Homo sapiens: one gene and its partners. The protein of the gene in region 2 purifies or fractionates together with the protein of the main gene of each other region. This does not show direct contact. Each region holds a gene or a part of one and is shown on either strand. Other genes may lie near its edges.

Region 1 (7,023 bases), on a different chromosome or scaffold from region 2:
TAATTGATTGGTTTCAGGATCCAATAAACTCTACAGGTAAATCCACTAAGGTAATGGTCTATACCGGTGGTTCCTGAACTTGAGTGTGCAGCAGAATTACCTGGAAGGCTTCTTAAAACACAGATTTCTGTCCCCACCTCCCAGGATTTGATTCAGGCGGCCTGCTGTGGAGCCTGAGAATGTACATTTCTAACAAGTTACCAGGTACTACAGATGCTTCTGTTCTGGAGACTGTGCTGAGAACCACTATGCTATATCTTTCCAGGGACAGTAAGGATCCCACTAAAAAGACAAGAATTCGATTTTTATCAGTTTACTAAATCAACATCTTATATTTCTATACTAAACACTAGCCACTACTTGAGGTTTATTACTGTTGTGATTATGTTTATAAAACAGGGACATCTTGCATACCCCTAATGGTGTGAATAAAATCAACTGTGTCAGTACCTTTGAGCACTTCATAACTTAAAATTCTAAAAAATTGAGATTTGGACCTACAGTTTGCTATTTAACAGACCAGGTCTGGTCTTGACAGTAAAGCCACCATCAAAAGCTGCATTAAGAACCTCATCCAGGCAGCTTGCTGTGACAAAACTTAAATCCTGTCGTACGTTGCCTGGGATTCCCTCAAGGTCTTTTTCATTTCTCCGAGGAATAATGACTTGCTTCAGTCCCGCTCTGTGTGCCGCCAGCACTTTGTCTTTAATTCCACCCACCTGTAAGGAGAGAAAAAAGTTTTTAGGGTTAATGATCACCCTCAAGCTGAAAGAAACCCTGACCCAGCTTTCTTTCACTGAATTTAACCACTACTATTTTAAAACATCCAAATCATCTTCCGTTTTGTTATAGCATGAGCTAGGAAAGCCAGGAAAAAGGATAAGTAGTAACCTTTTTTTAATGTTTCAATTGGTGTTATATTAAAGACTCTGATGAGGGGGATTCTAAATTGTTGATAGGTATGAGTTCCTCTTCTGTCAATGATTGTTTTTATAAATGCTGTCAAAGTAAATTGGCATTCAGGTGTAATCACAACCGTCTAGTCTTTAGGTTGATCTGAAAAAGCAGCACGTGATTCTGACCATGAGCGCCGCTCCTGCAGAGCTTAGCTGTGTGCTGGGGTTACTTCCCTCTCTACAGGTTTAAAGCCAGAACCTCCATGCTGGTTAATGAAGAAAATGTATCCCTAAACTAGGCTCCTATGGTGGCTTTCAAACATGTCTACAATGGTCCCCCTGCTTGAATGTGGGCCAGGCTTTGTGACTCGGTAAGAAACAGAGTGTGGTGGGAGTGATGCTGTATGATCTCCACGGCTGAGTCACAAAAAACGAGAGCTGCTGCCTGAATCTCTCTTGATCACCTGCCCTGGAGGTGGCCAGTCATAATGTCTGAGGTCACTCAAGCAGCCTATGGGCAAGTCCATCAGGTGAGGAACTGGGGCCTCCTGCCACTAGATGGGACCAATTTGCCAGTCACATGAGTCAACCACCATGGAAGCAGTTTCTCCAGCCTGTCAGCCTTCATGTGACTGCAGCCTGGCTGGAACCTAGACTGTAAGGCCAGAGACCCTGGGCCACAAGAACCCAGCTCAGCCTCTCCTGAATTCCTGGCCCACAGGAACTTGAAGAGTATGGAGTATTCTTGCTTTGGGGTAATGTGTTGCATCTGCTCCAATTAAGACTGGCTGGCTGCTCCAGGCCTTCCCGCCCCACTGGCATCTTCTTTCAAGGTTTTGTTCATGCTGCTGAAGTACTCCTTCAAAGTACCTTCTTCAAAAGAGTGTAAGATGAACTGATTCCTTGCATGTTTGAAAATATTTTACTTTCACACTTGATTGATACTAAGGCCATGTATACAAGACTAGATGTAAAACATTTTCCCTCACAGCTTTCATTACTATTTTTTTTTTTTTTGAGACAGTCTTACTCTGTCACCCAAGCTAGAGTGCAGTGGCACAATCTTGGCTCACTGCAACTTTCTGCCTCCCAGGTTCAAGCGATTCTCCTGCCTCAGCCTCCTGAGTAGCTGGGATTACAGGCATGCGCCACCACATCCGGATAATTTTTTTGTATTTTTAGTAGAGACAGGGTTTCACCATGTTGGCCAGGCTGGTCTCAAACTCCTAACCTCAAGTGATACGCCCACCTTGGCCTCCCAAAGTGTTGGAGTTACAGGCGTGAGCCACCACACCCAGCCTCCTTACTATTTTTAAAACAATTTTTGTAGAGATATATTTCCCAGGCTGGTCTTGAACTCCTGGACTTGAGCTATCCTCCTGTTTAGCCTCCCAAAGTGCTGGGATTACAGACGTCAGCTGCCACGCCTGGCCCATTTTCCCTCATAGTTTTGAAGGTACTGCACATCCAGTGTCAGTGCTGAGGCCGCTTTATCCTCAGTAATCTGAAAAGTCAAGGGGATGAAATGTTTTTCCTGGTTAGTAATGGTCCTTTCGATCTCAAGATGCCTTAACTTCTAGGAAATGTTCAGTTATTTCTTGGATAATTTGTTCCATTCCATTTTCCTGTTTGTTAGAACTCCTTTTAGATGTTGGAGTTCTAACAACAAATTGTTTTTCACTATAGTTTTTTCCTGAATAATTCTTTGACCACTTTCAAATCCCAAAGCCCCGTCTTGTCCTCTGTTCTCAAAGGAGGTTTTCTCCAGCTTTCACAGGCCTTTCTTTCAAGTGCTGCTGCTTTCCATCCTGCCTCTTGTAATGGTCTGGAGCTGAAGGTGTACCCCAGGCCGCTGTGGCTGTCTCTCCTGAGGCTGCAGAAGCCTTTACTTGGGCTACGATTTGCTCTGAGAGGGGACCAAGTAGAAAACCCATTTGTTCTATGGAGGTTCTAAAAATAGAAAAAATTATCCGGGCGTGGTGGCGCATGCTTGTAATCCCAGCTAGTTGAGAGACTGAGGCAGGAGAATCACTTCAACTTGGGAGGCAGAGGTTGCAGTGAGCCAAGATTGTGCCACTGTACTCCAACCTGGGTAAGAGAGCCGGACTCCATCTCGATAGAAAAAAGAAAAAAAGACTATTTCTTTTTTTTTTTCCTCATCTTGCTATGAACCTGCCAAAATCTTGTTGTGGACTAAAATTGTAGTCTAGTCTGTTGTAGACTAATACTCAACTAACAACTTTAAATACTCTCAAGTTCTGTACATTTTATCACACTATTTTTATAAGCAGTTTAGGATCTGGAGCCTCAAGACCCCACATGTATAGAACCTTTTCAAAATGTAGTCATTAGATATGGTTAATCTTTATTAGAGTTTCCATTCTATACTAGCAAAGTTTTCTGCAGGGGGACAGGAGGTCTCAAAGAAACTTCAAATTTAAGAAATGGGCTTAAAGCTTAAAAACAACTACTATCCCATTTTGCACATGTGCTATATCTTTAACAATTTGTCAAGTAGAACAAGGCCTCAAATTTTCATGTAACTGCCAATATTTCTGATGACCACACTAATATTTTTTTCCCTTAGCAAATCTTAGAATGGGAAACGTGGGCTGAATGTGGTGGCTCACGCCTGTAATCCCAGCACTTTGGGAGGTGGAGATGAGAGGACTGCATGAGACCTGGAGTTTGAGACAAGCCTGGACAACACAGAGAGACCCTGTCTCTACGCAAAATAAAATAAATTAGCTGAGCATGGTGGCGTGCTCCTATAGTCCCAGCTATTCGGGAGATAGACAGGAGGATCGCTTGAGCCCAGGACTTGGTGGCTATAGTGAGCTACAGTCACACCACTGCACTCCAGCCTGGGCAACAGAGTGAGACCTGTCTATTTCAAAAAAAAAAAAAAAAAAAAAAGGAAAATGTGAAAAATTGTCAGTTTTTCTTTTATTTGATCAAAATTTTAAAATATGAATTAGTTACAGGCATAAAAATATAATATATACTTAAAACCAAGGTTTTCATAGAAAGAAGGCAAACCCGTATTTAAAAATAATATTAATTTTCAAAAATTAAATAAAAAATAACCATATAAATTGTTTTTTCATACTTACTGGAAGAACAAGACCTCTCAGTGTAATTTCTCCAGTCATGGCTACATCTGAACGTACCAGCCGCCCACTAAAAAGTGAGGCGAGACAGGTTACTATGGTAACTCCAGCAGATGGTCCATCTTTTGTGACAGCTCCAGCTGGGAAGTGCAGATGGATGTCTGTGTTGTCAAGAAGATCAAAACTTCCAAAAGCTTTAAAAAGGAAAAAGGGACTTTAATGTAGAAAAATTAAACCTGTTTTCTTTTTCTCCTAAAAAAAAAGTCACAAACAAAAATGAATGTTTTGGGTAAATGAATTCTTCAAAATATTGGTGGACAGTACAATTTGGGTGAGGGTGTGGAAGAACAGTTCCATTCTACTCTAAGTCGTATTAAAACAAAATAAACCTTTTGAATTAGTTTCTAGTTCAGGCACTAGTCAAATAGTCCTGAAATGGGAACTAGGATTTCCACAGGGGTTCAAAACGGTGTGTACTTTGCTAGATGTGTAACTGGCAGTCTCGAGCTCATGCCAGTCTCCGCCATGGAAGGTACCGCCTCCTGGGTCACGCCTGCCTGGCCGGGTGCAGGCTCCTACCATTGGTCAGCTGGTACTTCTTTGCGTTGCTGCGGAGCCAGCTGATAGCGAGGTGGGCGGACTCCTTCATCACGTCCCCGAGCTGGCCGGTCAGAGTTAACTGGCCCTCGCCATCCATTCGACTCGCCTCCACGAACATGATTTCTCCACCTAAGGGAGTCCAAGCCAAACCTATTGCTACTCCTGGCTGACTCAAACGCTGAGATACCTTGAAAGAAGAAGAATGATCAGAGTTGGGTTGGCAAATGCTAAAGGTGACTGATACCACACAATCCTGCAAGAGTCGGCTGACTCCACAGAAGACTTCAGCCACTTACCTCAAAGTCCTTGTTACCTAACATGATTCTGCGTCACATTCAGCACTTACTCTCTGGCTTTCTGCCAGAAGAAAGACCTAAACTTCCTCTTTGACATTTATCAGAGGCAATTTTACCTTAAAATATATGTAAATAACTTTGCTTTTTATGAGCCAGATCTAGCTACACATGCCCTAGTTTTCAAGGAATAAACCCAATAGTTTTATCTAAGTATCTTTATTGGGCTGCAAATATATATATATTTTGAGACAGTCTCACTCCATTGCCCAGGCTTGAAGTACAGTGACACAATTTCAGCTCACTGAAAACTCTGCCTCCTGGCTTCAAGTGATTCTCCTGCCTCTGCCTCCCAAGTGGCTGGTACTATGGGCGCACACAGGCCACCACACCCGCTAATTTTTGTATTTTTTGTAGAGATGTGGTCTCACCATGTTGGCCAGACTGGTCTCAAACTCCTGACCTCAAGTGATCTGCCTGCCTCAGCCTCCCAAAGTGCTGGGATTACAGGTGTGAGCCACCACACCCAGCCTATTGGGCTGCATATTTATATATACTTCATAACCTAGCTTCATTTTAGGTAATCATGAATTTGTTTCAAAAAGTAGAAACCCTCTTACTAGCAGACCTTTAAGAAGAGTGAGCTTGGCCATGCAGAGTGGCTCATGCCTGTAATCCTAGCACTTTGGGAGGCTGAGACGACAGGATCGCTTGAGCCCAGGAGTTCGATAGAGACCAGTGTGGGCAACATGGTGAGACCCTCTTATTTTTTTTGAAAAGAAAAGTGAGAAGGGTTATATTAGAAACTCTAGATTTTACTTCTCCACCGCTTACCTTTAACTTTCTCTATTACTGCTGCAGAGACTATACAATACTACATAATAAACATCCTGGGTTCCTTCCCATGGGATGAGAGAGGTCCACTGTACTGCCTGCCATCTTAAATTGAACATGTTGTCACCTGAGACTAGGAGCATAGTTGATGGGCCATAGGTTAACACATCCAAGTTATGAAAACACTAAAAAGTAACAGTGGAAAATCAGTAATGTTAACTCTCATTACACCCTTTGAGCTTCAAAATTTCCTATCCAATAGAAGTTACTCATGTTAGAGGAACTGAACACAATAGGTCAACTAAGCACTAATCCAAACAGGAGATTTTTCTACTGAGAGTTGACCGTCTCACTAAGGAACAGCACTATACAGCTTGACTTTCTGGGTATGGGGCTGGGTTGCTTCTTTTTCTAAGGGGCTTGGACAATGAAATTCCTGATTGTAAAAATTATTCCAAAATTATGTGGCATCCATTGAAGCTATTGGGCACTTCTTTTCCTCTTTTTTTTTTTTTTTTTTTTGAGACATGAGTCTCACTCTGTCGCCTGGGCTGGAGTGCAATGGCACAATCTTGGCTCAATGCAACCTCCGCCTCCTGGGTTCAAGCAGTTCTCCTGCCTCAGGCTCCGAGTAGCTGGGATTACAGGCATGTATCACCACACCCAGCTAATTTTTGTATTTTTAATAGAGACAGTGTTTCGCCATGTTGGCCAGGCTGGTCTCAAACTCCTGACTTCAGGTGATCTGCCAGCCTCGGCCTCCCAAAGTGCTGGGATTACAGGCGTGAGCCTCTGCGTCTGGCCGAGCACTTATTTTCAGTAGTAAACATACATTAAAAAAAATTAATCCTAATTAACTTCATTTAACAGGTTAGAGATTTGAGAGGCCAAACTCCAGCATCAAGCTGACAGCATGTACCTCAGGTCACACTTTCCTCGAGCTTTGCCACTTGCCCTGTTCTATACTAACTTGAGGCGAAAGACACAAACGATCTATATGTAAGAGATCAGTACTACTTAAGGAAAATCATGAAACAGTTATTTATAAAACTGTTTACAAGGTTTGTTTTTTCTAATATAAAATCAATTCTCTATACCTGAATGACATACATCTAATTTGTGTGGGAATCTGTCACCCAAATTAGACTTCATTCAGGCTCCTTTCTAGGGTTGGGTGAATGAATCGTGTTTAACACAAAAAGTCATTTGGTACAATTTTGTTAACTCTACCAAGAATAATCCCTTTCTTATATTTGAATCCTCACAATTCATTTGTCAAAATAATACCAA
Region 2 (7,623 bases):
CTGGGGGTCCAACACTTACCAGCACACAACTGCAGGTACAAATCTGCATTATGGAAAGATAACTCTGGCAGGTGTCATGTAATTCTTTACAGGTGTGTATATTTGTGAATACATGAGAATCACCCAAGGAACTTTTTGCATTCTATATTTGCCTGCCTCCACTCAGCTAAGGACCACTAGATGAGAAGCACTTGTAAAGAAGCTGTTTGCAGGGATGCAGGCGAGAGTGAAGGTACCGACCACAAGAAAGCATAGGAGAGTTTTGAGAGATATCTAGTGCTGGGATTACAGGCGTGAGCCACCGTGCCCGGCCTGGAAATAATGTGGGTTTTTTTTTTTCTTTTCTTTTTTGAGACAGAGTCTCACTCTGTCACCCAGGTTGGAGCACAGTGGCACGACCTCGGCTCACTGCAACGTCCGCCTCCCAGGTTCAAGCAATTCTCCTGTCTCAGCCTCCCGAGTAGCTGGGCCTATAGGCACCCGCTACCACGCCCGGCTAATTTTTGTATTTTTAGTAGAGATGGGGTTTCACCATATTGGTCAGGCTGGTCTTGAACTCCTGACCTCAGGTGATCTGCCCGCCTCGGCCTCCCAAAGTGCTGGGATTACAGGCATAAGCCACTGCGCCCGGCTGGAAATATGTTTTAAACTTTGGATTTAGGGTCTGGGAGGGGACCCCCCCCGCCCCCGCCCCGACTATAAGATGCAACCCTCTTCCCTTAGAATCTGAACTGTCCCTGTGGGAGTGTCAACTTCCCTCTCTCAAGACTCACCCGAACCTCGGCCTCCCGGGGCCTCCCATTAAGGTCGCACTTGGACCCATTGCCATAGGTCTGGCTGTGGTAGCGTTTAAGACGATGCTGCTTGGAGGCCTGGAGAAGACATGAGGCAGGAATGGGGGACATGAGAAAGATAGCAAAGAGGAAGGATGGCACTGCGTCCCCAAAGAGACAAAAGAATGGCCTGTGCCCCCAGGCCCCAGGAAACTTTGTCCTAATGGCCACCAAGCCCCAAGAAACAGATCAGCTAATCTTGACCCTCCCCTTCTTGTCAGGGCTCTCAGCCGGTGGCCAGAACCCTTTCTTCCTGAATCCCACACTCTTGCCACCTTGGCTGTTTCATCATCCCAGTCGAAGGCTGATTGGTAGTAGCCGAGATAGAGGACTTCACCTTTGATCTCTGAATCTGCAAGGGAAGCCACAGTGAAGCACTGTTACTCTTAAGAGGAGGAGGAGGAGGAGGGAACTGGGGAACTTCCATGATATGACACTAAGGGCTTAAGGAAAATATAGGAGTGAGTTACCTTCCATGTGGTATTGCTGGATGTGGCGTCCATAACAGAATTCATATGTCCACCAGTCCTTTGTCTGACAATTAAAAAATAAACAATCAGGGGGATGGAGTGCAGACATCTTTTCTTGGAACCAGAGTCTCCTGGCTCCAAGACACATAACCTCTCATCTACTTACACACTCAATTCTCTTCCCTTCACTTCCACTCTCAATTCTCCAGACTTTCAGTAAGGAGGGAGGGCTGCTTTCCTTCTGTGACTTGGAGAGATATCTCTAAAGTCTGTTTTCCACTTGTGGTCTTTCCATTCCTCCCTTTTAAAAGATTTTTTAAATCCTTATTTGCCCTCCATAAAGATAAGAAATTATGGTATCCCTGAAGCAATTATATTAGGGAAACATAGAAGAACCCAAAATTAAATATTAATTGAACTTCTTGAACATTCCTGGCACTGTTCTGGCCACTGGGAATACAACTGTGAACAAGATTAATTCTTTGACCTCATGGAGTTTACACTCTAATGCGGGGAATCAGACCGAAAATAAACAAACTGATTCAGTAAATATGATTTCAGATCATGAAAAGTGCTACGATGAAAATAAAACAGGATACTGGAGCAGAGTGATAGGGCAGGGGGTGACTTTAGCAAGTAGGCTTAAGGAAGTACTCCTCCTACCCCACGCAGACCCTCAATCTTGCTTTAGCCCTTTTCTGAGATCTTCTATCCTAACCTGCTCCTACGTTCAGCAAAGTGTCATCAGTGGTTGCAGGATTCTTTGCTTCTTTCCTGTCCGTGTAATCTGTCTACTCCTCCAGTGGTCTTCTTAACCACTACAGGTCCCCTAGATCCTGCCTCATTCAGTGGACTCCAGTTCTTGGATGAACTGCTAGTTTCCAAGCCCTCATTCTATCTAACCCAGTCCCTTTCACCTTCAGCAAGCAGGGAGCATCTCTCATTGGGCTCAACAACTCAGGGATCCCAGGCCCTTGGTAAGCAGGTGTTTCCTCCTCCCTTTCACGCTGGAAGTGAATAGCTCCAGCTGGCAGGCGACACTCATAGCGCTGTTTGTACTTAGAGGAGACAATCACCACGTCCGAAGATTGGCTCTGGGAAAGAAGGGAGGGTCGGGGGGCAAGGAAGCAAAGAAAGGCTGGGATCAGGGAGAACAACGAAATCCCTCTTCAAACCCTGGGGAAGAGATCAGTCGAAGACAGAATAAGCCATAAGCCCTCCAGCTGTATTTAGTGGGTGAGAGGAGAGGGCGCTCCCATTTCTCCACGGGGGCGGAGTCCGGGTGTTTCGATCATAAACTGAGACCTGAAGGTTGACAGCGGGAAGCCCCACCTCTCCCAATTCCTGGCCCCCAGAGAATTGGTCTCAGTCTGCGACCCCCAGGGGTCACCGTAAAAGCAATACCTACTCTTCCCGATTCCCCGTAGGCTCCAGCCCCAGACTCCGGAGCTGCCCTTCTTCCTCTATCTCTTACCCGCTTCCTCTTCTGCCCAGACCCTCGCCCCTTATACGCCTCTCACCTGCCCTCCCATGACAGGCAACGGCAGGATCTCGATCCCATAACGCATCTCACTCAGCTCCTCCAGGTTCAGGCTCCCGACACCGCCGGTCAGACTTGCGGGTAACAGGAGTCCCAGAAGCAGCAGTCCTAACAAACTGGACAGCAGCGTTTCCGCCGCCATCTTTCGTTCCCCTTCTTATGCAGAGAATCTGTTTCCGCCCTAAGCCAGGCAGCGGCCTCAACACGCCCATCGGCGCCACATGATTTTATTGGCTGTACGTTCTATCCCTCCCACGTACCCTATTCCTATTTGTAAACGTGGCTCCAAGGTCCTGGGGAGGTGGATCACGACGATTAGAAATATCAATCGCTGTCCGTGATTGGTCAGAGACCAGCCAATCATCGACAAGATCAAACCCCTCCTCGTTCCCCAATTTCAGAGGCGTGGTCTATGCGCTTGGTCCTTTTAAGTTTGCCCTCTGTCTTCGCCCAGCTGTCATGCGCATCTCATTGCTTTTTCAGACGTCTCTTGCATTATATCCTGCCCACCGCCGGGCGGAGTATTGAGGCAGATAGGTAGCGTGCGCAGTGCCGGTGAAAGTTATTAAATGCTTGTTGCAAAACAAACAATTATTATACGGACGCTTACCTCTTTTCATATATACATATTGCTTTGAGGCAATCAGAAAATTTGTGTCAAAACCTTCCTATACGATCCTGCAGTTGACCTCCAGTAAAATGACCTCCAGTAAAAATCCTAGAGAAATAATGCGGGCAGCCAGACGTGGTGGCACGCACCTGTGGTATCAGCTACTCCGGAGGCTGAGGCAGGAGGATCTCCTGAGCCCAGGAGTTCAAGTGCAGCCTGCGCAACACAGCGAAACCCCGTCTCAAATAAGTACGTACATACATACATACATACATACATACATACATACATACATACATGCATACATGGGCTTCCAGTTAAGGTGAAATTATGTATTACTCTCCAGGCCGTAAGAAAGGGAAAGGAGACAACAACAGCAACATTTTGGAAGCTGGAAATCAAACAGAAGAATGTTAACTGGTTTAGCAAACTTGAGAATATTTATTACGAAACAAAGGTAAACAAGAGGCTGATTATACCTTTGGAAAACCCTCTCTGGGGAATCTCACCAGCCAAAACGAAAAATCCCAAAGATACCCTTATCAGAGTTCTCTTAATGATATAGATAACTAGAATGAATTCCACATGTAACACTTTGGCCTACGTGCCCCAGCCCTCATTCCACTTTCCAATCAGCTTTTTAGTGTTCTTACTCTTCAAAATAAATAGCCAGAGATCATTAGACATTTAAGGAAGGACTTTAATATACAAGTAAGAAACAAACAAGAAGGGAAAAGCAAATGAGAGGAAACATAAATTGCAAGGGAGGGGAAAAAACACTAAAAATAAAAAATTTAAAAATAGGCCGGGCACGGTGGCTTACGCCTGTAATCCCAAAACTGTGGGAGTCCGAGACGGGCGGATCACTTGAGGTCAGGAGCTCAAGACCAGCCTGGCTAACGTGGTGAAACCCCGTATCTACTAAAAATACGAAAATTAGCTGGGCATGGTGGCACGCGCCTATAGTTCCAGCTACTCAGGAGGCTGAGGCAGAAGAATTGATTGAACCTGGGAGGCGGAAGTTGCAGTGAGCTGAGATTGCGGCACTGCATTCCAGCCTGGGCCACAGAGCTAGACTCCGTCTGAAACAACAAAGCATTTAAAAATAATCCATCATCAGACTTCTCAAAGAGATATTATAGAGCATTCATAAAATAACAACAGGAAACTACTTGAGAGTAACTACTATTCGGATAAGCAAAAAGAGCTCTTGGAAACTAAAACCATGTTACAGAAATAAAAATTCTATAAAAAGGCTGGGGGATAAAGTTGAAGAAGATCAAATTTGTTCTGCTTTAGGAGAAAACATAAAAATAAAGGATCAGTCCAGAAGGTCTGGACTAAATAAGAGTTCTAAATTAGAGTTCCAGAAAGAGAACAGAGAATCAGAAGAGATCATCAAAAAAACTATTTAAAAGGACTATCCCAAACTGAAGAACAGTCTCCAAATTGAACAGGCACCCTAAGTATCCAGAACAACAAATCAAACCCACACCAAGACACATCATTATAGAATCTCAGAGTACTGGACACAGAGAAAAAAATTCTAAAAGCTTCCAGAGAGAAAGAACAAGTTGCATATACAGACAAAAAAAATCAGAACATGTGACTTCATGTTGTTGCTTTGTTAATACATTTTTTAAAAATCAGTATAACATTAGGATTAAGAATCAGAACACCATTGCTACCCAAAGCAATCTATAGATTCAATGCAATCCCTATCAAAATACCAATGACATTCTTAACAGAAATAGAAAAAACAACCCTAAGAGACCTAGAATGGAACCACAAAAGACCTAGAATAGCCAAAGCTATCCTGAGCAAAAAGAACAAAACTGGAGGAATCACATTACCTGACTTCAAATTATACTGCAGAGCTATAATAATCAAAACAGCATGGTACTGGCATAAAAACAGACACAGACCAATGGAATGGAATCCAGAATCCAGAAACAAATCCATATATCTGTATTGAACTCATTTTTGACAAAGGTGCCAAGAACAGACACTGGGGGAAAGACAGTTTCTTCAATAAATGATACAGGGAAAACTGGATATCCCTATGCAGAAGAATAAAACTTGACCCCTATCTCTTACCATATATAAAAATCAAATCAAAATGGCTTAAAGACTTAAATCTGGCTGGGCGCAATGGCTCATGCCTGTAATCCCAGCACTTTGGGAGGCCGAGGTGGGTGGATCACGAGGTCAGGAGATTGAGACCATCCTGGCTAACACGGTGAAACCCTGTCGCTACTAAAAATACAAAACATTAGCCAGGTGTGGTGGCAGGCACCTGTAGTCCCAGCTATCCGGGAGGCTGAGGCAGGAGAATGGCATGAACCTGGGAGGCCGAGCTTGCAGTGAGCCGAGATCGCGCCACTGCACTCCAGCCTGGGTGACAGAGCGAGACTCTGTCTCAAAAAAAAAAAAAAAAAAAAAAAAAAAAAAAAGACTTAAATCTATGACCTGAAACTATTAAACTACTACAAGAAAACATTGAGGAGCCTCTCCAGGACATTGGCCTGGGCAAAATTTCTTGAGATACCCCACAAGCACAGGTAACCAAAGCAAAAATGGACAAACAGGATCACATCAAGTTAAAAAGCTTCTGCACAGCAAAGAAAACAACAAAGTGAAGAGACAAGCCACAGAATGGGAGAAAATATTTGCAAACTACTTGTCTGACAAGGGAGTAATAACCAGAATATATAAGGAGCACAAACAAAAGAAAAAAAAATCTAATAATCTGATTTAAAAATGGGCAAAAGATCTGAATAGACATTTCTCAAAAGAAGACATACAAATGGCAAACAAGTGTATGAAAAGGTACTCAACATAATTGATCATCAGAGAAATGCAAATCAAAACTACAATGAGATATCATCTTACCCCAGTTTAAATGGCTTTTATCCAAAAGACAGGCAATAACAAATGTTGGAGAGGATGTGGAGAAAATGGAACCCTCGTACACTGTTGGTGTGAATGTAAATTAGTACAACCACTATGGAGAACAGTTTGGAATTTCTTCAAAAAACTAAAAATAGAGCTACCATACAATCCAGCAATCCCACTGATGGGTATATACCCAAAAGAAAGGAAATCAGTATATCGAAATGATATCTGTACTCCCATTTTTGTTGCAGCACCATTCACAATAGCTAAAATTTGGAAGCAAACTAAGTGTCCATCAACAGATGGATTTAAAAAAATGTAGTACGTATACACATAGGAGTACTTACTATTCAGCCATGAAAAAGAATGAGATCCTGTAACTCGCAACAACGTGGATGAAACTGGAGGTCATTATGTCATATGAAATAAGCCAGGCACAGAAAGACAAACTTAGCATGTTCTCACTTATTTGTGAGAGCTAAAAACCAAAGCAGTTGAACTCACGGAGATAGAGAGTAGAAGGATGGTTACCAAAGGCTGGGAAGAGTAGTGTGGGGTTGAGGAGAAGTGGGGATGGCTAATGGGTATAAAACATAGAAATAATGAAAAAGACCTAGTATGTGATAGCATAACAGGGTGACTATAGTCAATAATAATTTAATTGTACATTTTAAAATAACTAAAAGGGTATAATCGGATTGTTTGTAACACAAAGGATAAATTCTTGAGGGGATGGATACTCCATTTTTCATGATGTGATTATTACTTATTGCATGTCTGTATCAGAGTATCTCATGTACCCCATAAATATATACATATATACACCACTGTGTGCCCACACAAAAATAAAATTTTTAATTGTATTTAATTGATTCCTTATCAGAACAGCATTGGGCTTACAAACTCATCAACATTGGGAGGAATGAGTGTGGTGGCTCACTCCTCTAATCCCAGCACTTTGGGAGGCCAAGATGGGAGGATCACTTGAGCCCAAGAGTTTGAGACCAGCCAGGGCAACATAGGGAGACTGCATCTTTACAAAAAAAAATTTAAAAAAAATAGTAGGGCATGGTAGCGAGTGCCTGTGATCCCAGCTTCTTGGGAGGCTGAGGTGGGAGTATTGCTTGAGCCCAGGAGGTCAAGGCTGCAGTCAGCCATGATCACGCCACTGCACACCAGCCTGGGTGACAGAGTGAGACCCTGTCTCTTAAAAAAGAAAAAATACATTGGGAGCTAGAAAATAATATAAAATATCTTCAAATTTTTTAGGGAAAT
Region 3 (7,897 bases), on a different chromosome or scaffold from region 2:
ATACCCCAGTGCCATGTCTTGGGGCAAGAGAAAATGAAGACAGACCTGGAACATGAACATGGTGGCCTTGCCAGAAAGCAAGTGTGTGTTGCTGAAACATCAGCAGAGATTGTCAAAGGGATAAAGAGATAACTTAAAAGGGTTCCTATTGACCAAAATGCGACAAGTTGACCATCTAAAATCAAATCATAATTATAGTTCAATAGGACACATTGAGTCTCTTAAAAGCTTCCAATCCGTAATGACCATCAAGGCCCATAACCTCAAAAGAGTAAAGTTAAAATAAAGTTCAGAAAAGGTTAGCTGCAATAAAACATGAGTTTTAGTAATTTTAACAAGAAGGGGATGAAGCTATAGATGCATTTTTATTCCTTCTTTTAACTATGTTGCCCCTTATAATGTATAGCTTTGCCTTATTTTTCTCTGTCTGAGTAAGGATAAAGAGTAAAGGCCAGGCACAGTGGCTCACACCTGTAATTCCAGCACTTTGGGAGGCCGAGGCGGGCAGATAACTTGAGGCCAGGAGTTTGAGACCAGCCTGGCCAACATGGTGAAACCCTGTCACTACTAAAAATACAAAAATTAACTGGAATTGGTAGCACATGCCTGTAATGCCAGCTACTCTGGAGGCTGAGGCACGAGAATCGCTCGTAATTCCAGAATTCGAGAGGTGGAGTTTGCAGTAAGCCAAGATTGCGCCACTGTACTCCAGCCTGGGTGACTGAGTGAGACTCTGTCTCAAAAAAAAAAAAAAAAAGAAGAAGCTGTGAGTAGGCCACATAGTTCCAGAAAATGCAGAAATCCCCCCTCCCCTCCCCAACACACAGGAAGTGGCTCAGGAGATTACACACAGAAGGAAAGTGTGTCTGCTGGGGTTTTGCAAGTTGGCTAATTTGAAAGGTGACTGGAGGAGGTGAAAAAATGGTGCAAACTTCATTCATTCATTAAATGAGTTATAAGAAGACAGACACAAGTGTCCATTATGCTAACAGAGCTCTGTGTTAAACACCCCACCAGCATCGCCTCATCTAAGCCTCAGAAGAGCTATGTGGGAAAGAAACTTTTATCCCTATTTTATAGATGAGGAAACCAAGGCTCAGAGAACTGAGGGCCTCCCCCGGATCCAAGTCCACCTAGCTGCAGTCACCCCACATCCTCTGCATGTCACAGGTGCTCAGAAAGATGCTGAAGGCACCTGGCCCTTCACCTTCGGAAAGCCAAAATGAGCACGGCCCCTAAAGAGGGGATTGACAGCCTTTTCTGGAAAAAATGGAAGTTTGAATCTGAGGAGGTGTCCCTCAACAACAGGTGCTGCTCCCCAAATCTGGGGCCAAACGCAGCAGTTGTTCCCCCACTTAGACCCCTGAGACCCATCTATATGGTTTTTCAGAGCCAGGACACATCCCCAAAGGTCATGGCCTTTGGTGGTTAGCATTGACTTGGGGCCCATCACATGCCAGAGGCTGCCCGAAGTGCTTAAATGTTATTATCTCATTCGATCTTCACAGTCCTGATGGAAGTGACTCTTCTTAGAGTCTTCCTATCTCACAGATGAGGAAACCGAGGCACAGAGAGGTTAAGTGGCTTGTCTAAGAGCTCACAAAAAGAGCGATGGAGCTAAGGCTTGGCCCCAGATATTAGATCCCGAACCCACGCCTTAACCAGTGACCTGCACTGACTCTCAAAGAAGGAAGCTGGTGCCTGGGAAGGAGGGTGCATAGTGAGGGTGTGCATGGGGTGTGTGTGTTTGTGGGGTGGCCAGCACTCTCCGGGGGCACTTTGCCAATGAGTTCAGCTCCCATGAAGTCCACTGTTGTTCTCCTGACCAGCCACTCAGTCTTGATTTACTTGGCCCAGGGCCACTGGCACACCTCACCCCCTTACCCGATTCCTTGCTGCAGACCCCAAATCTCGACTCTCACATCCCTATCCAGCCCATACCACGAGGCTCCCATCTCCAGGCAGGGCCCTGTGGTGGGGCAGGGCCTCCCCCAGATGCCCCTTACTCATGACCAGCTCACAGGATCTTCCCATGATGCATTTCCTCTGGGGGGATCAGCCCAGATGCTGCAATAGACAATTGTGGAAGTAACCAGGTGGACAAGACTTTCCCCCTCATGTCCTGGGGTTCCTGGGGGCACAGTATCCTTGTGAATGGCCACTGAGTACTCCCACCCCTCCCACCACAACCCCCGGGATTTTGTCCTGGTGCGTTTTTCCAGATTATCCTAGCCCTTCCTCCCAGGATGGATGTCCAGAGCAGGGCGGGGGCTGAGCCTAGAGCCCTGCCAAAAGAGCAGGACCCCAAATTCTGAGCCCCTTACTTGCCTCACCTGCTCCCACCCATGCTTTCTTCATTCCTCCTCCAAAAGCCCCAGCTCCCCACTGCAATCCCTTCTGCACCCAGCCAGGTCCTATGACACACACCTCCCCAGTGCACACAGACCTGCCCAACTGTGGGGCTGCCCACTGGGCATTTCATAGGTGGCTCAGTCCTCTTCCCTCTGCAGCTGGCCCCAGAAACCTGCCAGTTATTGGTGCCAGGTCTGTGCCAGGAGGGCGAGGCCTGTCATTTCTAGTAATCCTCTGGGCAGTGTGACTGTACCTCTTGCGGCAACTCAAAGGGAGAGGGTGACTTGTCCCGGGTCACAGAGCTGAAAGGGCAGGTACAACAGGTGACATGCCGGGCTGTCTGAGTTTATGAGGGCCCAGTCTTGTGTCTGCCGGGCAATGAGCAAGGCTCCTTCCTGTCCAAGCTCCCCGCCCCTCCCCAGCCTACTGCCTCCACCCGAAGTCTACTTCCTGGGTGGGCAGGAACTGGGCACTGTGCCCAGGGCATGCACTGCCTCCACGCAGCAACCCTCAGAGTCCTGAGCTGAACCAAGAAGGAGGAGGGGGTCGGGCCTCCGAGGAAGGCCTAGCCGCTGCTGCTGCCAGGAATTCCAGGTTGGAGGGGCGGCAACCTCCTGCCAGCCTTCAGGCCACTCTCCTGTGCCTGCCAGAAGAGACAGAGCTTGAGGAGAGCTTGAGGAGAGCAGGAAAGGTGGGACATTGCTGCTGCTGCTCACTCAGTTCCACAGGTGGGAGGGACAGCAGGGCTTAGAGTGGGGGTCATTGTGCAGATGGGAAAACAAAGGCCCAGAGAGGGGAAGAAATGCCCAGGAGCTACCGAGGGCAGGCGACCTCAACCACAGCCCAGTGCTGGAGCTGTGAGTGGATGTAGAGCAGCGGAATATCCATTCAGCCAGCTCAGGGGAAGGACAGGGGCCCTGAAGCCAGGGGATGGAGCTGCAGGGAAGGGAGCTCAGAGAGAAGGGGAGGGGAGTCTGAGCTCAGTTTCCCGCTGCCTGAAAGGAGGGTGGTACCTACTCCCTTCACAGGGTAACTGAATGAGAGACTGCCTGGAGGAAAGCTCTTCAAGTGTGGCCCACCCCACCCCAGTGACACCAGCCCCTGACACGGGGGAGGGAGGGCAGCATCAGGAGGGGCTTTCTGGGCACACCCAGTACCCGTCTCTGAGCTTTCCTTGAACTGTTGCATTTTAATCCTCACAGCAGCTCAACAAGGTACATACCGTCACCATCCCCATTTTACAGATAGGGAAATTGAGGCTCGGAGCGGTTAAACAACTCACCTGAGGCCTCACAGCCAGTAAGTGGGTTCCCTGGTCTGAATGTGTGTGCTGGAGGATCCTGTGGGTCACTCGCCTGGTAGAGCCCCAAGGTGGAGGCATAAATGGGACTGGTGAATGACAGAAGGGGCAAAAATGCACTCATCCATTCACTCTGCAAGTATCTACGGCACGTACGCCAGCTCCCAAGCAGGTTTGCGGGTTGCACAGCGGGCGATGCAATCTGATTTAGGCTTTTAAAGGGATTGCAATCAAGTGGGGCCCCACTAGCCTCAACCCTGTACCTCCCCTCCCCTCCACCCCCAGCAGTCTCCAAAGGCCTCCAACAACCCCAGAGTGGGGGCCATGTATCCAAAGAAACTCCAAGCTGTATACGGATCACACTGGTTTTCCAGGAGCAAAAACAGAAACAGGCCTGAGGCTGGTCAAAATTGAACCTCCTCCTGCTCTGAGCAGCCTGGGGGGCAGACTAAGCAGAGGGCTGTGCAGACCCACATAAAGAGCCTACTGTGTGCCAGGCACTTCACCCGAGGCACTTCACAAGCATGCTTGGGAATGAAACTTCCAACTCTTTGGGATGCAGGTGAAACAGTTCCTGGTTCAGAGAGGTGAAGCGGCCTGCCTGAGGCAGCACAGCTCTTCTTTACAGATGTGCTTCCCCACCTCTACCCTGTCTCACGGCCCCCCATGCCAGCCTGACGGTTGTGTCTGCCTCAGTCATGCTCCATTTTTCCATCGGGACCATCAAGAGGGTGTTTGTGTCTAAGGCTGACTGGGTAACTTTGGATGAGCGGTCTCTCCGCTCTGAGCCTGTTTCCTCATCTGTCAAATGGGCTCTAACCCACTCTGATCTCCCAGGGCGGCAGTAAGTCTTCAGCATCAGGCATTTTGGGGTGACTCAGTAAATGGTAGATCTTGCTACCAGTGGAACAGCCACTAAGGATTCTGCAGTGAGAGCAGAGGGCCAGCTAAGTGGTACTCTCCCAGAGACTGTCTGACTCACGCCACCCCCTCCACCTTGGACACAGGACGCTGTGGTTTCTGAGCCAGGTACAATGACTCCTTTCGGTAAGTGCAGTGGAAGCTGTACACTGCCCAGGCAAAGCGTCCGGGCAGCGTAGGCGGGCGACTCAGATCCCAGCCAGTGGACTTAGCCCCTGTTTGCTCCTCCGATAACTGGGGTGACCTTGGTTAATATTCACCAGCAGCCTCCCCCGTTGCCCCTCTGGATCCACTGCTTAAATACGGACGAGGACAGGGCCCTGTCTCCTCAGCTTCAGGCACCACCACTGACCTGGGACAGTGAATCGTAAGTATGCCTTTCACTGCGAGAGGTTCTGGAGAGGCTTCTGAGCTCCCCATGGCCCAGGCAGGCAGCAGGTCTGGGGCAGGAGGGGGGTTGTGGAGTGGGTATCCGCCTGCTGAGGTGCAGGGCAGATGGAGAGGCTGCAGCTGAGCTCCTATTTTCATAATAACAGCAGCCATGAGGGTTGTGTCCTGTTTCCCAGTCCTGCCCGGTCCCCCCTCGGTACCTCCTGGTGGATACACTGGTTCCTGTAAGCAGAAGTGGATGAGGGTGTCTAGGTCTGCAGTCCTGGCACCCCAGGATGGGGGACACCAGCCAAGATACAGCAACAGCAACAAAGCGCAGCCATTTCTTTCTGTTTGCACAGCTCCTCTGTCTGTCGGGGGCTCCTGTCTGTTGTCTCCTATAAGCCTCACCACCTCTCCTACTGCTTGGGCATGCATCTTTCTCCCCTTCTATAGATGAGGAGGTTAAGGTCCAGAGAGGGGTGGGGAGGAACGCCGGCTCACATTCTCCATCCCCTCCAGATATGACCAGGAACAGACCTGTGCCAGGCCTCAGCCTTACATCAAAATGGGCCTCCCCATGCACCGTGGACCTCTGGGCCCTCCTGTCCCAGTGGAGGACAGGAAGCTGTGAGGGGCACTGTCACCCAGGGCTCAAGCTGGCATTCCTGAATAATCGCTCTGCACCAGGCCACGGCTAAGCTCAGTGCGTGATTAAGCCTCATAACCCTCCAAGGCAGTTACTAGTGTGATTCCCATTTTACAGATGAGGAAGATGGGGACAGAGAGGTGAATAACTGGCCCCAAATCACACACCATCCATAATTCGGGCTCAGGCACCTGGCTCCAGTCCCCAAACTCTTGAACCTGGCCCTAGTGTCACTGTTTCTCTTGGGTCTCAGGCGCTGGATGGGGAACAGGAAACCTGGGCTGGACTTGAGGCCTCTCTGATGCTCGGTGACTTCAGACAGTTGCTCAACCTCTCTGTTCTCTTGGGCAAAACATGATAACCTTTGACTTCTGTCCCCTCCCCTCACCCCACCCGACCTTGATCTCTGAAGTGTTGGAAGGATTTAATTTTTCCTGCACTGAGTTTTGGAGACAGGTCAAAAAGATGACCAAGGCCAAGGTGGCCAGTTTCCTATAGAACGCCTCTAAAAGACCTGCAGCAATAGCAGCAAGAACTGGTATTCTCGAGAACTTGCTGCGCAGCAGGCACTTCTTGGCATTTTATGTGTATTTAATTTCACAATAGCTCTATGACAAAGTCCACCTTTCTCATCTCCAGGAAACTGAGGTTCAGAGAGGTTAAGTAACTTGTCCAAGGTCACACAGCTAATAGCAAGTTGACGTGGAGCAATCTGGCCTCAGAGCCTTTAATTTTAGCCACAGACTGATGCTCCCCTCTTCATTTAGCCAGGCTGCCTCTGAAGTTTTCTGATTCAAGACTTCTGGCTTCAGCTTTGTACACAGAGATGATTCAATGTCAGGTTTTGGAGTGAAATCTGTTTAATCCCAGACAAAACATTTAGGATTACATCTCAGTTTTGTAAGCAAGTAGCTCTGTGATTTTTAGTGAGTTATTTAATGCTCTTTGGGGCTCAATTTTTCTATCTATAAAATAGGGCTAATAATTTGCACCTTATAGGGTAAGCTTTGAGGACAGATTAGATGATACGGTGCCTGTAAAACACCAGGTGTTAGTAAGTGTGGCAATGATGGTGACGCTGAGGCTGATGTTTGCTTAGCATAGGGTTAGGCAGCTGGCAGGCAGTAAACAGTTGGATAATTTAATGGAAAATTTGCCAAACTCAGATGCTGTTCACTGCTGAGCAGGAGCCCCTTCCTGCTGAAATGGTCCTGGGGAGTGCAGCAGGCTCTCCGGGAAGAAATCTACCATCTCTCGGGCAGGAGCTCAACCTGTGTGCAGGTACAGGGAGGGCTTCCTCACCTGGTGCCCACTCATGCATTACGTCAGTTATTCCTCATCCCTGTCCAAAGGATTCTTTTCTCCATTGTACAGCTATGAAGCTAGTGCTCAAAGAAGTGAAGTCATTTACCCCAGGCCCCCTGCCAGTAAGTGACAGGGCCTGGTCACACTTGGGTTTATTTATTGCCCAGTTCAACAGGTTGTTTGACCATAGGCGAGATTCTCTTCCCTGCACCCTGCCGGGTTGCTCTTGGTCCCTTATTTTATGCTCCCGGGTAGAAATGGTGTGAGATTAGGCAGGGAGTGGCTCGCTTCCCTGTCCCTGGCCCCGCAAAGAGTGCTCCCACCTGCCCCGATCCCAGAAATGTCACCATGAAGCCTTCATTCTTTTGGTTTAAAGCTTGGCCTCAGTGTCCGTACACCATGGGGTACTTGGCCAGATGGCGACTTTCTCCTCTCCAGTCGCCCTCCCAGGCACTAGCTTTTAGGAGTGCAGGGTGCTGCCTCTGATAGAAGGGCCAGGAGAGAGCAGGTTTTGGAGTCCTGATGTTATAAGGAACAGCTTGGGAGGCATAATGAACCCAACATGATGCTTGAGACCAATGTCACAGCCCAATTCTGACATTCATCATCTGAGATCTGAGGACACAGCTGTCTCAGTTCATGATCTGAGTGCTGGGAAAGCCAAGACTTGTTCCAGCTTTGTCACTGACTTGCTGTATAGCCTCAACAAGGCCCTGACCCTCTCTGGGCTTCAAACTCTTCACTGTGAAAGGAGGAAACCAGAGTAGGTGATGTGACACCAGGAAAGATGGATGGGTGTGGGGGAATGTGCTCCTCCCAGCTGTCACCCCCTCGCCACCCTCCCTGCACCAGCCTCTCCACCTCCTTTGAGCCCAGAATTCCCCTGTCTAGGAGGGCACCTGTCTCATGCCTAGCCATGGGAATTCTCCATCTGTTTTGCTACATTGAACCCAGATGCCATTCTAACCAAGAATCCTGGCTGGGTGCAGGGGCTCTCGCCT
Region 4 (7,987 bases), on a different chromosome or scaffold from region 2:
AGCTCTAGTTCAGAGATCCAGGCTCAATTTATACCCTGGGCTCTAGCCCAGAAATCGAGGCTCAGTAAAGTGTATACAACGGGATCTATCTGAGGGGTCCAGGCTTAGTACCTAGTCTGAGCTTTTAACATAGGGATCCAATCTGAACATCTGGTCTGGGCTCTGGCCCAGATAGCCTGCCGAAGGATCCAGCCTTCGGGTGGGTCAGTCACATTCAGATTTCTTTTTCTTTTTTTTTTTTTTTTGAGACTGAGTTTCACTCTTGTCACCCAGGCTGGAATGCAGTGGCATGATTTCAGCTCAGTGCAACCTCTACCTCCCAGGTTCATGCCATTCTCATGCCTCAGCCTCCCAAGCAGCTGGAATTACAGGCGCCTGCGACCACGCCCAGCTAATTATTGTATTTTTAGTAGAGATGGGGTATCACCATGTTGGCCAGGCTGGTCTCGAACTTCTGACCTCAGGTGATCCACCTGCCTTGGCCTCCCAAAGTGCTAGGATTATAGGCGTGAGCCACTGCACCCAGCCTATACCCAGATTTCTATCAGGGACGGATACTACCGCCTTTCAGAAGCCCGATTCTAGCCAGACTTCCTCACCAGGATATAGTCGGCCCCCCAGTTCCTGGCAAAGGTGAGGGCTTCCTGCTTCAGCTCCATCAGAAACTGGTGCCTTTCTTTGGTCCAGTGCTTGGGACCCTCTTCATCTGGGTAGAACCTGAGGGGATAGAGGTGAGATGTTCCCATGGGGTACATGCCCCTCCCTCTCTGCAGGGCAGTGGACAGAGCCCTGGCTTGGAGGCTGTGGCTCTGGGCTGTCCCTTTTCCTCTCTGGGCTGCAGCTGTTCTCCATCTTCCCCAGCACCCTTCCCCTCAGATCACCACCTGGGCTCGCCCTCAGGCCTCCAGACCACAGCAGCATAGTCATCGCCCACAGCCGCCAGCCACTCCTGCAGCATCTCTGTGGTGTTGTCCACATTGTGGTCCGTGGCACACCTGGGGACGGGAAGAAAAAAGGCTGAGGGGGCACAGCCACAGGATTGAACCCCAAGGCAGCCTTGACCCCAAAGCACTAACACCTTTGAGGTCGAGCTCTCCTTGGAACAGTGAAGGGTAGGTGTGCTACAGCAGAGAGGCTGGAGGCAGCACAGCCAGGTCCCCACCACAGTTCTGTGACCTGCTGTGTGACCTCAGGCAAGTCCCATCTTTCTCTGGGCTTCACGTCCTCCCTCTATAACTTAAGCTGTCCTGCTTATGTCATGGACAAAGATAAGAGAAGAATAATGCATTTTTTTTGAGATGGAATCTTGCTCTGTCGCCCAGGCTGTAGTGCAGTGGTATGATCTCGACTCACTGCAACCTCCGCCTCCCGGGTTCAAGTGATTCTCCTGCCTCAGCCTCCTGAGTACCTGGGATTACAGGTGTGCACCACCATGCCCGGCTAATTTTTGTTTGTTTAGTAGAGATGGGGTTTCACCATGTTAGCCAGGCTGGTCTTGAACTCCTCACCTCAGGTGATCTGCCCACTTCGGCCTCCCAAAGTGCTGAAATTACAGGCGTGAGCCACCACACCTGGCCAACGAATGCATTTTGAAAGATGAAAAGTACCTCGACTTTAAGGATCACACCTGGTGCATTCCCTGGTTACCTTCGTTAGGTGGGCAGATACCTACCTATGTGACCTGTGGCTGTGTGACCACAGGCCAGCCCCTGTCCCTCTCTGAATGGGGACTAGACAGAAGAGCTGCTGCTTTCCTCCACCCCCAGGTTGTAATAAGGACCAAACCATGCTCTAAGCGTCCCTAAGAATGCAGATGGGTCCAAGCTCTGCTGTCATGGGGCACAGCCTCCCCTCTCCTGGGGAAGGGGCCCCCATAACAGAGGTGGGGGTTTAGCCAAGTGCCCAGGTTTTGGGTGATGCTGCCCCTTTAAGCCAATTCCCCAGAAATGAAGACTACGTGTCAAGTCTTACAGGGGTGGGAACTAACAAACTCCCAAACTGTGGTAATTGTGGGCGGCCTCCCCAGGCCAGGGCTCCACCCCCCCAGCCCAACTGTGGTGTGTTGAAGAGGGTGGCTTGTCATTTTTCTCAGTTTACCCCCAACCTCAGCCAGGGACTCCTCCCTGTTCTGGTGTCTACAGACCAGGGGTTGTGGCCTTCGATCCCAGTGCCCTGGGGGTACAGAGATGCCAGAGGGGAGAGGCTCCAGGAAGGGGGACTGCCCTTGGCTGACAGGATCCCGCCCCTCTACCAAGATCTACCAAGAGAGCTGGCCCCAGCACGGGGGCGGTGGGGGGGCCGGTCTGACTCCCCTGCACAGCCCGGAGCCCAGTGCTGATGGCACCCCCAACCTGTGCCCGGAAGCCTCCAGCGTGGTCGATCCCTGCCACGTTGGGCCCCAGTGGACTTCAGAGGTTCCTGTCTGCTCCTCTTCAAATCCAGCCAACCACAGGTCCCACTGGGGTTGAGCTGGGCCCTGAAGGCTGGGGTGAAAAGGGCTGGCTGGGCCCAACCTACACCCAGGGAAGGCCCCAAGAGGAAGGAGTAGGGGACCAGAAGGAGGGGTGGGTGTCCCGCGTCGGCCTGTGGCCTCAGAGGTCTGTCGTCTCCCAGCAGGGGGCTCGGGGTCCTCTCTGGCGGCTCGGGCTGGCAGGGCCGTCTGTGAGGGGAGGGGCCTGTCTAGGTGGTGTCTGGGCAGGGAGCGAGCAGACAGGGCCGCCGGGGGCGGGGGCCATCTGCGAAGCTGGGGGTTAGGTGCCCACTCGGTGCCAATGCCCGGGTCTCTCACCAGAGGGCCATCCTGGCCCGGGGGTAGTCCAGCCGCTCCAGAGCGCCCAGGTAGTGGGGCAGCGAGTGTTCGGCATTGCGGGCCAGGATGGCAAGGACCACGGCGGGCAGCGGCGACTCCGCAACGCCCGCAGCCTCCAGCCACGGCCCCAGCAGGAGCAGCAGCTGGAGCAGCGGCGCGGCGCGGGCAGCGCGCATGGCGGGCGCTTGGGCGGCTGCAGCGGCCCCCGGAGCTCTCGGGCCGGCCGAGGGGAGGGGGCGGGGCCTGGGGCCCGGGCGGGGCCGAGGCAGACCCGGAGAGGGCGGGGCAGTGCACCCTCAGAGTGGGATCCTGCTCCCCACCCCTGTGCGTGGATGCTCAAGTTTTCTCTCCTTGGCCCGGGGCACCGGAGGGCCAGGGCCCGGGGACCCGCGCCAGCCGCGACCCTGGAGCAGCCCCGCCCGGCTGGACCCCGGAGGGGCGACGGCGGAGGGGCCGGAGGACCGGACAGGGGAGGGGTGCTAGGACGAGTGCGTCGGGGCCGGCCGGGCGTCCGAGAACAGTAGGGGCTCATGGAACCCCTGGGCGTTGAACCCCCGGAATCCGGATTCCCCGGCCCACGCAGCCGACTCTTCGACCTGAGCCGCAGACCCAGAGGGGCGGCGCCCACTCGGCCACCACCTCCCGGGCTTCCCCGGCTCCCGCCCCATCCTCCGCCCCGGGCGCCCTCTGGCGGCCCTGGCGCTAGCTCCGCAGACCAGCCGGGCCACGCGTGGGCCGGAGACCCAGCGTGGGGGGCGCAGAGGGAGTCCCCCTGAGCTGGGCGCGTCCTCCCGCGGCGGTCCGCTCCTTAAGTCCCCTGTGCGTCACCTCCTTGCGTCGGTCGCCAGCACCCGCATTGCTTCGGCCCTTTAAGAGAGCACAGCCAGGCCGGGCGTGGTAGCTCACGCCTGTAATCCCGGCACTTTGGGAGACCGAGGCGGGAGGATCACCTGAGATCAGTTCAAGACCAGCCTGGCCAAGATGGTGAAATCCCATCTGTACTAAAAATACAAAAATTAGCCGGGCGTCGTGGCGGGTGCCTGTACTCCCAGCTACTTGGGAGGCTGAGGCAGGAGAATCGCTTGAACCCGGGAGGCGGAGGTTGCAGTGAGCCGAGATCGCGCCACTGCACTACAGCCTGGATGACAGACCGAGACTCCGTCTCAAAAAGAAAAAAAAAAAAAGAGCACAGCCCTCACAGCCCTCTCTTGGTCTGAGTGTAGAACTAGGGGACACCACGGAGCTGCTCACTGCGACCCGACCCGTCCGTCCTCCAAAGCAGGGGATGTTGGCTCCCCTGGAGCACCGCCGGGGTCCTTAGGACCCTGCTGGGAGGGAAAGAACTCTGCAGCCTCTCGGGAGAGGAGCAGAAAAGGGAGCGGCCTGGCGGCACCACAGATGGGATCGAACTGGGTGTCTGTCACCAACCTCAGACAGGTCCCTTTCCCTCAGGAGCCTCTCGGGTAAAATCGGGCTGATAACGCCACCCATCTGGGAGGGTTTGCAGGGATTCCTCGAGAGAATGAATGCACTGGCAGCTTTTCCCGCGTGGAGGCTTACACACAGGAAGAGCTCCGCCCTGGGGCTGGGAAGACAGGACTGGAGGAGAGGGAGGCTCCCCCTTCACCCTCCCACCGCTGGGAAGATCTCCTTTCCTAGGAACAGCACGGGGTCTCCCTTCAGCCTTTTCCCAGGGTCAGGGAGGGGAGCCAGGGCTGTGCACACTATCTCCACTGCAAGGGGAGGGCTGAAGGTCCATAGAGGAAGGAACTTACCTAGTGCAGGGGCAGCACGTGCGCACTGAACCCTGGAGTCCTGATCTCTAGCCTAGCTCAAAGCCTCCACCAGGATCGGGTGGCAGCTTCCATTTGAGGCCATTTCTAGGCCAGCGGCCCTGCAATGAGAAGCATTCTGGAGAGATGCCAGATTTCTTCTCCCTTGCACGGTAGTCCCCTGCGGGAAGCCACTCCCAGCCCCAGAAGAGGGATTCCCTTTCTAAAGCAAAGCAGTGTTCCCTACTTCACCCACCCCAGAGTCATTCCACAGCCTCTGCCTGTCCTATTGGTCCAAGGGTGCTATGGTCAGAATGTCCGTGACCCTCAAAACTCACATGTTGAAAACCTAATGTTAATGTCAGGGTATTAAGAAGCGGGGCCGGCACGGCGCGGTGGCTCGCGCTTGTAATCCCAGCACTTTGGGAGGCGGAGGCGGGCGGATCACGAGGTCAGGAGATCAAGACCATCCTGGCTAACACGGCGAAACCCTGTCTCTACTAAAAAATAGAAAAAAATAGCCGGGCGTGGTGGCGGGCGCCTGTAGTCCCAGCTACTCAGGAGGCTGAGGCAGGAGAATGGCGTGAACCCAGGAGGCGGAGCTTGTAGCGAGCCGAGATCGCGCCACTGCACTCCAGCCTGGGCGACGGAGCGAGACTTCTGTCTCAAAAAAAAAAAAACAAAAAACAAAAAACAAAAAAAAAAACAGGCGGGGCCTTTGGGAGTTGATTGGGTGGGCTGCCCCACCTGAATGCGGCTAGTGCCCTTATAAAAGAGGCCTGGGGGCCGGATGCGGTGGCTCACGCCTGTAATCCCAACACTTTGGGAGGCTGAGGGGGGTGGATCATGAGGTCAAGAGATCAAGACCATCCTGGCCAACATAGTGAAACCCCATCTTTACTAAAAATACAAAAATCAGCTGGGTGTGGTGTCGCGTGCCTGTAGTCCCAGCTACTCAGGAGGCTGAGGCAAGAGAATCGCTTGAACCCAGGAGGCAGAGGTTGCAGTGAGCCAAGATCATGCCACTGTACTCTAGCCTGGCAACAGAGCGAGACTCCGTCTCAAAAAGAAAAAAGAGGCCTGGGGAGCTTGTCAACCCCTTCTGCCACATGAAGACACAGCTAGAAGGCCCCAGGTATGAGGAACGGGCCCTTACCAGACACCAAATCTGCTGACGCCTTGACCTTGGACCTCCCAACCCCCCAGAACTATTAGCAATAAATTTCTTTTTTTTTTTTGGCCAGGGGTTGGGGGGTGGTTCAAGCAATTCTCCTGCTTCAGTCTCCTGAGTAGCTGGGATTACAGCCACACACCACTATGCTTGGCTAATTTTTTGTATTTTTAGTAGAGATGGGTTTTCACTACGTTGGTCAGGCTGGTCTCGAATTCCTGACCTCAGGTGATCCAGCTGCCTCAGCCTCCCAAAATGCTGGGATTACAGGTGTGAGCCACTGCACCCGGCTGATAAATTTCTGTTGTTTATACATTATGCAGTCTAAGATATGTTGTTATAGCAGCCCAAACGGACTAAGACAGGGGGCTTCCTGATTCTTCCCTGGCCTCAAGTCCTCCTCTTCCCCCAAGTCCTCCCACCCTCCCCAGGAGTCCAGCCTGTTACTAACTTTCTTGCCTCAGAGTTTTCCCATCACACCTGCCTGGAAAACCCAATAGCCATCTTGTTTTGGGGCAGGTTGGGGCAACTGCAAACTCAGGGTCTCTACCCTCACTTGGGCTCTCACCCAGCCCAAGAATCCTGTTTCCCTGTGTCCCCTGCCCACTCCCCTCAGGGCATTTCAAATGCTTCTAGTCATTGAGGCACGGTGGCTCATGCCTGTAATCCCAGGACTTCGGGAGGCTGAGGTGGGCAGATCACTTGAGGCCAGGAGTTCGAGACCAGCCTAGGAAACACAGTGAAACCCTGTCTCTATTAAAAATACAAAAAAAGGCCGGGGCAGTGGCTCACACCTGTAATCCCAGCACTTTGGGAGGCTGAGGCAAGTGGATCACCTGAGGTCGGCAGCTCAAGACCAGCCTGACCAACATGAAGAAACCCCGTCTGTACTAAAAACACAAAATTAGCTGGGCATGGTGGCGTGTGTCTGTAATCCCAGCTACTCAGGAGGCTGAGGCAGGAGAATCACTTGAACCCAGGGGGGCAGAGGTTGCAGTGAGCCGAGATCGCGCCATTGCATTCCAGCCTGGGCAACAAAGGCGAAACTCCGTCTCAAAAAAAAAAAAATAGTAATAATACAAAAAAAAATTAGCCAGGTGTGGTGGCACATGCCTGTAGCCCCAGCCACTTGGGATTCTGAGGCAGAAGAATCACTTGAACCTAGGAGGTGGGAGTTGCAGTGACCTGAGATCACGCCACTGCACTACAGCCTGGGTGACAGAGTGAGATTCTGTCTCAACAAAACAAAACAAAACAAAACAAAACAAAGCCTCCAGTCTTCTCAAGCCCCCATTCCACCGCCCCTCTCCCCCAGCAAAGATCTCTCTACTACTTTTTGGAGAAAATAGAAGCCATTACCTGGGAACTCTCATTTCTAGCCTCCAAACCTTCCACCTCTGCCCTCAGCCAGCCTCAGGAGGCACACCCCTCCTCAACAGAACGGCCCCTGTGAAACCGCCTTTGCAAATTTGTAACTCAGGAAATTATGACAGCGGAACAAATCAGACCTAACTGATTCTGTCTTGCTTCTAACCCTTAAGCTGTCCTTGTTCACTCCTGGGCGTAGGCTGAACTAACTTTGGGAAGGAATTCAGTTCATGGTTTGACTCTGAAACAAAATTTATAACAGCCCTTTCCCAAAAAGACCCTTCTTCTTGCCTGGGGTCCAGTCTGCCTTTGCAGGACTGGCAAAGTAGCTATAAGATTAGAAATTACAATTTAGGGGTCATGCAGCCTTTGGGTCCTCCCCAAATTGCTCCTGGGGTAACATCACTATTGTAAAACCTAAAGTCAGTGCTTGAGATATTCTGCAGACCCTGCACCCGATGGATCAGCTGACACCAGCCAGACCAGTAATCTGGCCCAACCAGTTCTACCATCGCACCCAGGAACAGAAGACATTAAGAATACCTAACTTCCACCTCCTATGATTCCATCTCCAATCTGACCAATCAGCATTTTCCACTTTCCAAGCCCCTACCTGCCAAATTATATTTAAGAACTCTGATCCCCACATGACTGGGGAGAACCGATTTAAGTAATAATAAAACTCCGGTCTCCCGCACAGCCGGCTCTGTGTGAATTACTCTTTCTCCTTTGTAATTCCCCTGTCTTTTTTTTTTTTTTTTTTTTTTTTGAGACGGAGTCTCGCTCTGTCACCCAGGCTGGAGTGCAGTGGCGTGATCTCGGCTCACTGCAAGCTCCGCCTCCCGGGTTCACACCATTCTCCTGCCT

What was found.
Region 1: the proteins of OS9 (region 2) and LONP2 purify together in Homo sapiens (affinity purification with mass spectrometry; 3 studies listed by BioGRID and IntAct, with this or other methods). This does not show direct contact.
Region 3: the proteins of OS9 (region 2) and SERPINA1 purify together in Homo sapiens (affinity purification with western blotting; 4 studies listed by BioGRID). This does not show direct contact.
Region 4: the proteins of OS9 (region 2) and CERCAM purify together in Homo sapiens (affinity purification with mass spectrometry; 3 studies listed by BioGRID and IntAct, with this or other methods). This does not show direct contact.

The regions. Positions count from the first base shown.
Region 1 is NC_000016.10:48,345,277-48,352,299, reverse strand, and holds part of LONP2 (lon protease homolog 2, peroxisomal), read right to left. Parts: exon of another isoform or gene 5,389-7,023; intron 4,794-5,388; coding exon 4,586-4,793; intron 4,201-4,585; coding exon 4,010-4,200; intron 720-4,009; coding exon 498-719; 3' UTR 1-497. UniProt on the Homo sapiens protein: ATP-dependent serine protease that mediates the selective degradation of misfolded and unassembled polypeptides in the peroxisomal matrix.
Region 2 is NC_000012.12:57,689,524-57,697,146, reverse strand, and holds the start of OS9 (protein OS-9 isoform 1 precursor), read right to left. Parts: upstream 3,016-7,623; 5' UTR 2,986-3,015; coding exon 2,824-2,985; intron 2,398-2,823; coding exon 2,221-2,397; intron 1,368-2,220; coding exon 1,304-1,367; intron 1,186-1,303; coding exon 1,109-1,185; intron 873-1,108; coding exon 774-872; intron 1-773. UniProt on the Homo sapiens protein: Lectin component of the HRD1 complex, which functions in endoplasmic reticulum (ER) quality control and ER-associated degradation (ERAD).
Region 3 is NC_000014.9:94,385,603-94,393,499, reverse strand, and holds the start of SERPINA1 (alpha-1-antitrypsin precursor), read left to right. Parts: upstream 1-4,897; 5' UTR 4,898-4,940; intron 4,941-7,897.
Region 4 is NC_000009.12:128,415,876-128,423,862, reverse strand, and holds the start of CERCAM (inactive glycosyltransferase 25 family member 3 isoform a precursor), read right to left. Parts: upstream 3,007-7,987; 5' UTR 2,986-3,006; coding exon 2,789-2,985; intron 2,660-2,788; exon of another isoform or gene 2,352-2,659; intron 2,341-2,351; exon of another isoform or gene 1,077-2,340; intron 996-1,076; coding exon 885-995; intron 718-884; coding exon 600-717; intron 1-599. UniProt on the Homo sapiens protein: Probable cell adhesion protein involved in leukocyte transmigration across the blood-brain barrier. Does not express any beta-galactosyltransferase activity in vitro.